Linked DNA regions of Homo sapiens: region 1 is linked to region 2. The links come from fine-mapping of genetic effects on gene expression. Tissue or cell type: blood mononuclear cells. Region 2 holds a variant in brackets; the other region holds the start of a gene. All regions are shown on one strand. Distances are between the middles of the regions.

Region 1 (2,614 bases), 53 kb after region 2:
AGATTTTATGAGGGGAAAAAAAAAAAGAAACAGAAATGTGAAGCTCATGGTAAGTTAGCGGCAGGTCTGGAGTTGGAACTCTAGGTTTCTGACTTCCCCAGGTGTCCTTCCCAGATCCTTCCCCAGTGTGCCAGCATCTTAAGCCCACTCCGTGGCGAGCCCCTACAGCTAGCAGCCGCTACCAGTTCTTGCTTCCTGTGTGCCAGGCATTGTGCACACGAACACCACAAGAACCTTGTGAGGCCTCATTACCTGCCGCTCACGTGGGACCGTTATGTTTACTCGCTCAAGGTCACAACAGTCAGGGGCAGAAGAATTTTCGCTCCGATTCTGAAGCTGAAGCTGTTACCTTCTCTAGTCTTGAGACCAAAGGAATGCGAGATAGTGAAATAACAAGGATTTCAACACGCATTGATGTACTGTACAAAAGGCCGTGTGCTGAAAGTCTGGAGACTAGGGTCAGCTGTGCCAGTGACAAGCTGTGTGACCCTGGGCAAATCAAAACCTCTCTGAGTTTCGGTTGCTTCTGTAAAACGAGGGAATTGGGCGACTGGATCGCGCGGTTGCTTCTAATTCTAAAATTACAAAATGTCCAACTGCCAGGCGAGAGACTACGGAAGCCCAGTAAGACAGGAAGGGCGGGCGGGGCCTGCCCGGGAGACCCCAAAGCGAGAAAAGGGAGCGCCCGCCCCAGTGGGCCTCGCGGTGCCGCCCGGGCCAAAGAGCGCGCCCTCAGGGCAGCCGCGAAGCCGGGGAGCGAGCACGCACGCGCGCGCCGCCGCCGCCGGTCCCGGGTTACCTGATAACGCTGCCGCCGCCGCCTCCCCGCGCACGGGCAGTGTGGCCAGGGGCGGCAGCCAGAGCAGCAGCCACCACCGCCCTTGGCGCGGCCCCATTTCGTTAGGGGTCAGCTCCGTGCGACCCGAGCCCTAGGGGACCGGCTCCGCTGCGAGGAGCGGAAGTGGCGCGGGGGCTCAGAGAAGGCGGAGGGGGCGGTGAGGCCCGAACGCGGGAAAGGCGGAGACCCCGCCTCCCCGGGGCGGAGGGAGAGTTGGGCTCGTTGCTCCAGCCTCCGCCCGCGGCCTCGGGGCACGGCGGGCCCAGGCCGGAGGAGCTTTCGGTGGCGCGACCCCGCTGGCATGCTCCCGGCCTCGGCCTCGGCCTCGGCCTTGGCCTCCGGGCCTCCAGCGCACGCGGGGCGTCCAGGGCCTCATCTTCCCCTGGGGACCGCCCGGCCGTGTCCCGCTGCCCTCGGCGCAGGGGTGGGAGTTGCAGAGAGGAAGAGTCGCTAACCCGGAGTGTTTCTTAAAACTTGGCTGACCTGTGACCTGCGGATTTGGAGGCTGAATTCTCCGAGCACCTGTGAGTGACAGCCCGTGAATGGGAAGGTCCTTCGGCAAACGCCCTTTTTGTGAATAAAATACATAAAAGCCAGTTTCTTTATTTTACCTTTCTGTTTATCTTTTTACTTTCATTTGGTAACAAGCAATAACAAATTGGAAATTTGGCCGCTTAAGTAACACTGACTTGTATGTCTAATCTCGGACACGGCATTTCAGAGTACAGAGGGGCTCGTAAAATGTTCCTTCACCAACATGACAAGGTTCTCTTAAAATTACCTTATGTTAAAAAAAAGTTTCTTAATGTAATAGATATATTTTTAAATTAACATATAACCTGAATGATCTTAATACTGATAATTAGGAGATATACATATATTTTAAAGAACATTCCCTCCACAGGACCTGGAACCCATTAATTTGACTCAATATTCCATACTTAACTAGGACAGTCTTCTCTAATTCTGGTCTTTTGGTGAGATATCTTAGAGAACCCAAAGTAACAGAAATTATCCTGTTAAAAATAGATAAGCCTCATTTTTCCTAAAAGTCTGAGTAGGATGGACTAGGCTTTCCTTGCCCTCAAAGAAAGGTTTAACCAACTGCCCTTAAGCACTTGGCACCATGTGTACACCATGTATGGCTTTTAAAAAGTTAAGAAATTTCCTTGTAAGGGACTCTTCAGAGGGATGGTTTTTAAAAATAAACCATCATTACTTGAGTGAAGCCTGTCTTCAGAGAAACAGCAGAGCCCTGATCCAATTCTTTCCTGTATTCCCAGGTGCGGTGTGCACTTGCTTCTTGCAAGACAGCTTTTGTACCTAACCACATTCATTTTGATTTGGTTTAATTTTGGATGGCACTATGGAAAGTAGCTAAAATAAACAGGTGGGTTGTTGAATGATGAATGTATTTTCTACAGATATATCTGGTGGAGAAACAAAAGGGCAGGCAGCAATGTACTAAATATTTAAAGTGCTATTTATATCACAGATCCTTAGTAAATATCTGTAAAGAAGCTATATTGAAACACCACATTTTTCTCTATAAGCAATAAATATTTTTCCGGAGATAACAAGAATGTTAGGAGGTGATAGTTCTGTCACTGGGGGACAATCATGAAATTCCACTTAACCTCTCCAAACTTTTCTTCTGTATGAAAACCTTATCCACTGGGGGAAGGGCAGGAAGCTTTACCACCAACAGGATCCTGGCAAAGACCCCCTGCTTCTGGAGAAGAGATAGAAGCACAAACCTTCTGCCCTTTGGGGAGC
Region 2 (2,760 bases):
TAATGACCAAAGCGTAAGGGAAATGTGGCTAGTCAGTGCACACTATTAATAAAGTTATCTTTGAGGAAGATAAGTGAAATCTTTATTGGCTGATAGAAAAGCAGTTCTCATGTGTGGCTTCAGGTGGGAAAACACTGGGCGTGTAGTATAATGTTGCCAAGTCTTAACATTAAACTCCCTGGGTTTTGGGTGGTAGTCTCCTAAAACCTGCTTAAAGGTATGCCAAAGGCATAATGCCAGCATGTAAAAATTCACGAGGGCCCCCTAGAACATTGTTACATCAGTTATAGACTTTTTTTAAGCAACTCATATATTTTTTTAAGTTTGCAAGCTAGAGCTTATAGAAGAGATCTACTATTTTATTTCCTCTGTCCACTTTTACTTATATATGGGATTTGGAAGTTTTCTCCAACCTTACCCAGGGTACCTTTTATCCATAAATGCTTTCTTCGTCATATCCCAACATGTAGACCACTGCCTACCCTGTTTCAGTTCAATGTCCTTTTGTTCAGCTGCTGTTACATGTCAGCCCTCTGCTGGGTGCTGGATATGTCTGTTCTCAAGGAGCTCAGTCTGCGTCCCCTTTAGATAAATCCTGCCCCCTTTCACCTGCCAGACTGTAAGCTCCTTGGTGGCTGGGGACATTATTTTGCATATTGTCATATTTTCAAAGCCTAGCAGGCTATCTGGCACATAATATAGATGCTGAGTAAATACTGTTGAATGCATGAAGGGGATTCTTGCAGTCCTATACATCAATAGGTGTGGGAATGTTGGCTTTTAACACAAATTGTTGCATGTCTTATATAAACTTTCTTTCGTGCAGCACACAGAAGATCCATGCTGCTGCTGCTGCTAAGTCCATTGCTCTTTGTAGGATCCTCCGCCATTTGTGGAAGGTGTATTGCTGTTAGTAGCCCCAACTCTGACAGAGAGACTGGCTTGCTACTCACCATCTCTGTTTCCTTTTCTTCGTGGACATGCAGCTAGATTCTATTTCCCAGCCTCCCTTGCAGTTAGGTATGACCATGTGGTTAATTCTGGCCAGCGGAATAAAAGCAGAAATGATAGGAGGAAAGGATAGCA[C/T]GTGGGAAATTGTATGGGTCAGGTGCAGAGGTGTGTCACTCCCTTCTCTGTCAGCTGGATATTGATACCTAGGGTAACCAGGCATTGCAGATGGCAGATTCTCTGTAACCTGGATCCCTGAATGACTATGGAGCAGAGCTGCTACTACTCCTGTCTCCTGTTCATTGGACTTTGTGTGAGCAAGAAAAGAAAACATTTAATGTGTGAAACCACTAAGATTTCCAATATAGACTTTTTCTTTTATTGCCTGCCCAATGGAGGCCTTTCCTTAGGAAGAATAGTCTCTTACTGATTTTCACCAAGTTGACCTTTCGGAAGCTTTCCTTTTTTTTTTTTTTTAATCCCAGAACTAATTGAAATGTATGCTTTGGTCTATTCATGGGAAAGGTTTGTCACAGCTGATTCTGTGTGCCAATGCTAAAGGGATAGTTATGTTTTGTTCAGTAAGCTTAAGTCAGTGGCAGAAGGAAGAAAAACAAAACAATCCTAGTTCCCTAGTACTGTGTCAGTTCTCACTCCTCCCAGCCATTATAATGTGATTTCCCCAAGCCAAGCAACAGTTTACAAAGAGCAGCTGTCTCCTTAAGAAGAAAGGACTTTTTTTCCTGCTCATACATGCCATTTATTTCAGTAGAGCATTCTTGTGGGCCAAGACTGAACAATTTTGAAATGCATGTTGTACAATCAGATACCAGTGTTGAGTGTTATAAGGTATTTGGGGCATTTAAAAAACAATATAGATGACATGTCAGCTCTTCAGAAAGGGTGGAGAAGAGTTATTAAGACTATCATCTTTTTTTTTTTTTTTTTTTTTTTTTTTTTTTTTTTAGACGGAGTCTCACTCTGTCGCCCAGGCCGGACTGCGGACTGCAGTGGCGCAATCTCGGCTCACTGCAAGCTCTGCTTCCCGGGTTCACGCCATTCTCCTGCCTCAGCCTCCCGAGTAGCTGGGACTACAGGCGCCTGCCACCGCGCCCGGCTAATTTTTTTGTATTTTTAGTAGAGACGGGGTTTCACCTTGTTAGCCAGGATGGTCTCGATCTCCTGACCTCGTGATCCACCCGCCTCGGCCTCCCAAAGTGCTGGGATTACAGGCGTGAGCCACCGCGCCCGGCCGACTATCATCTTTTAAACTGGTAGCTTGTGGGGTATGTTTGATATTAACAACAAAATCTCTCAAAGTAGATAGTTACATTTACTATAGAATACTTCTAACAATTGTTATGAGAACATATAGTGTAATATTTAAGCACCTAAGCTCTGAACTTGGACACCTTGGGTTCAAATCCTATTCAACAACTCTCTTCTCTGTGTGACTCTGGACAAGGCATCTAATATCTCTGTGCCTTGGTTTCCTTTTTGGAAAATGAAGAAAAAATAGTACTGTACCTATTGGAGGAATAGATTCAATAATCTGTGTAAAACACTTAGCACAATTCCTTGTAGAGTAAGCTGATGTGATAATATTAATGAAAACAGGGTTGGGCGCAGTGGCTCACGCCCGTAATCCCAGCACTTTGAGAGGCCGAGGCAGGCAGATCACGAGGTCAAGAGATCAAGACCATCCTGGCCAACATGGTGAAACCCTGTCTCTACTAAGGGTACGAAAATTAGCTGGGCGTGGTGGCACACACCTGTAGTCCCAGCTACTCGGAAGGCTGAGGCAGGAGAATT

The links. PIP is the estimated chance that this variant, and not a neighbour inherited with it, causes the effect.
Region 1: it holds the start of NEMP2, and the variant in region 2 is fine-mapped to the expression of NEMP2 in blood mononuclear cells (TOPMed, PIP 0.91).

What each region holds. Positions count from the first base shown.
Region 1 is chr2:190,533,760-190,536,373 of GRCh38, forward strand. It overlaps NEMP2 (nuclear envelope integral membrane protein 2), which reads right to left and starts at 963. Exons shown (of 9, transcript NM_001142645.2): 1 at 800-963. The coding sequence starts at 896. NEMP2-DT (NEMP2 divergent transcript) reads left to right here and starts at 1,079. Exons shown (of 5, transcript NR_183903.1): 1 at 1,079-1,362. RefSeq lists a silencer at 627-1,276.
Region 2 is chr2:190,480,990-190,483,749 of GRCh38, forward strand. The region is part of intron 4 of MFSD6 (major facilitator superfamily domain containing 6); the gene reads left to right. It also overlaps a transcript of NEMP2 not described here. Among named protein-coding and RNA genes, the nearest start is that of NEMP2, 52 kb to the right of the region's middle. The variant C/T (reference allele first, on the strand shown) is at 1,087.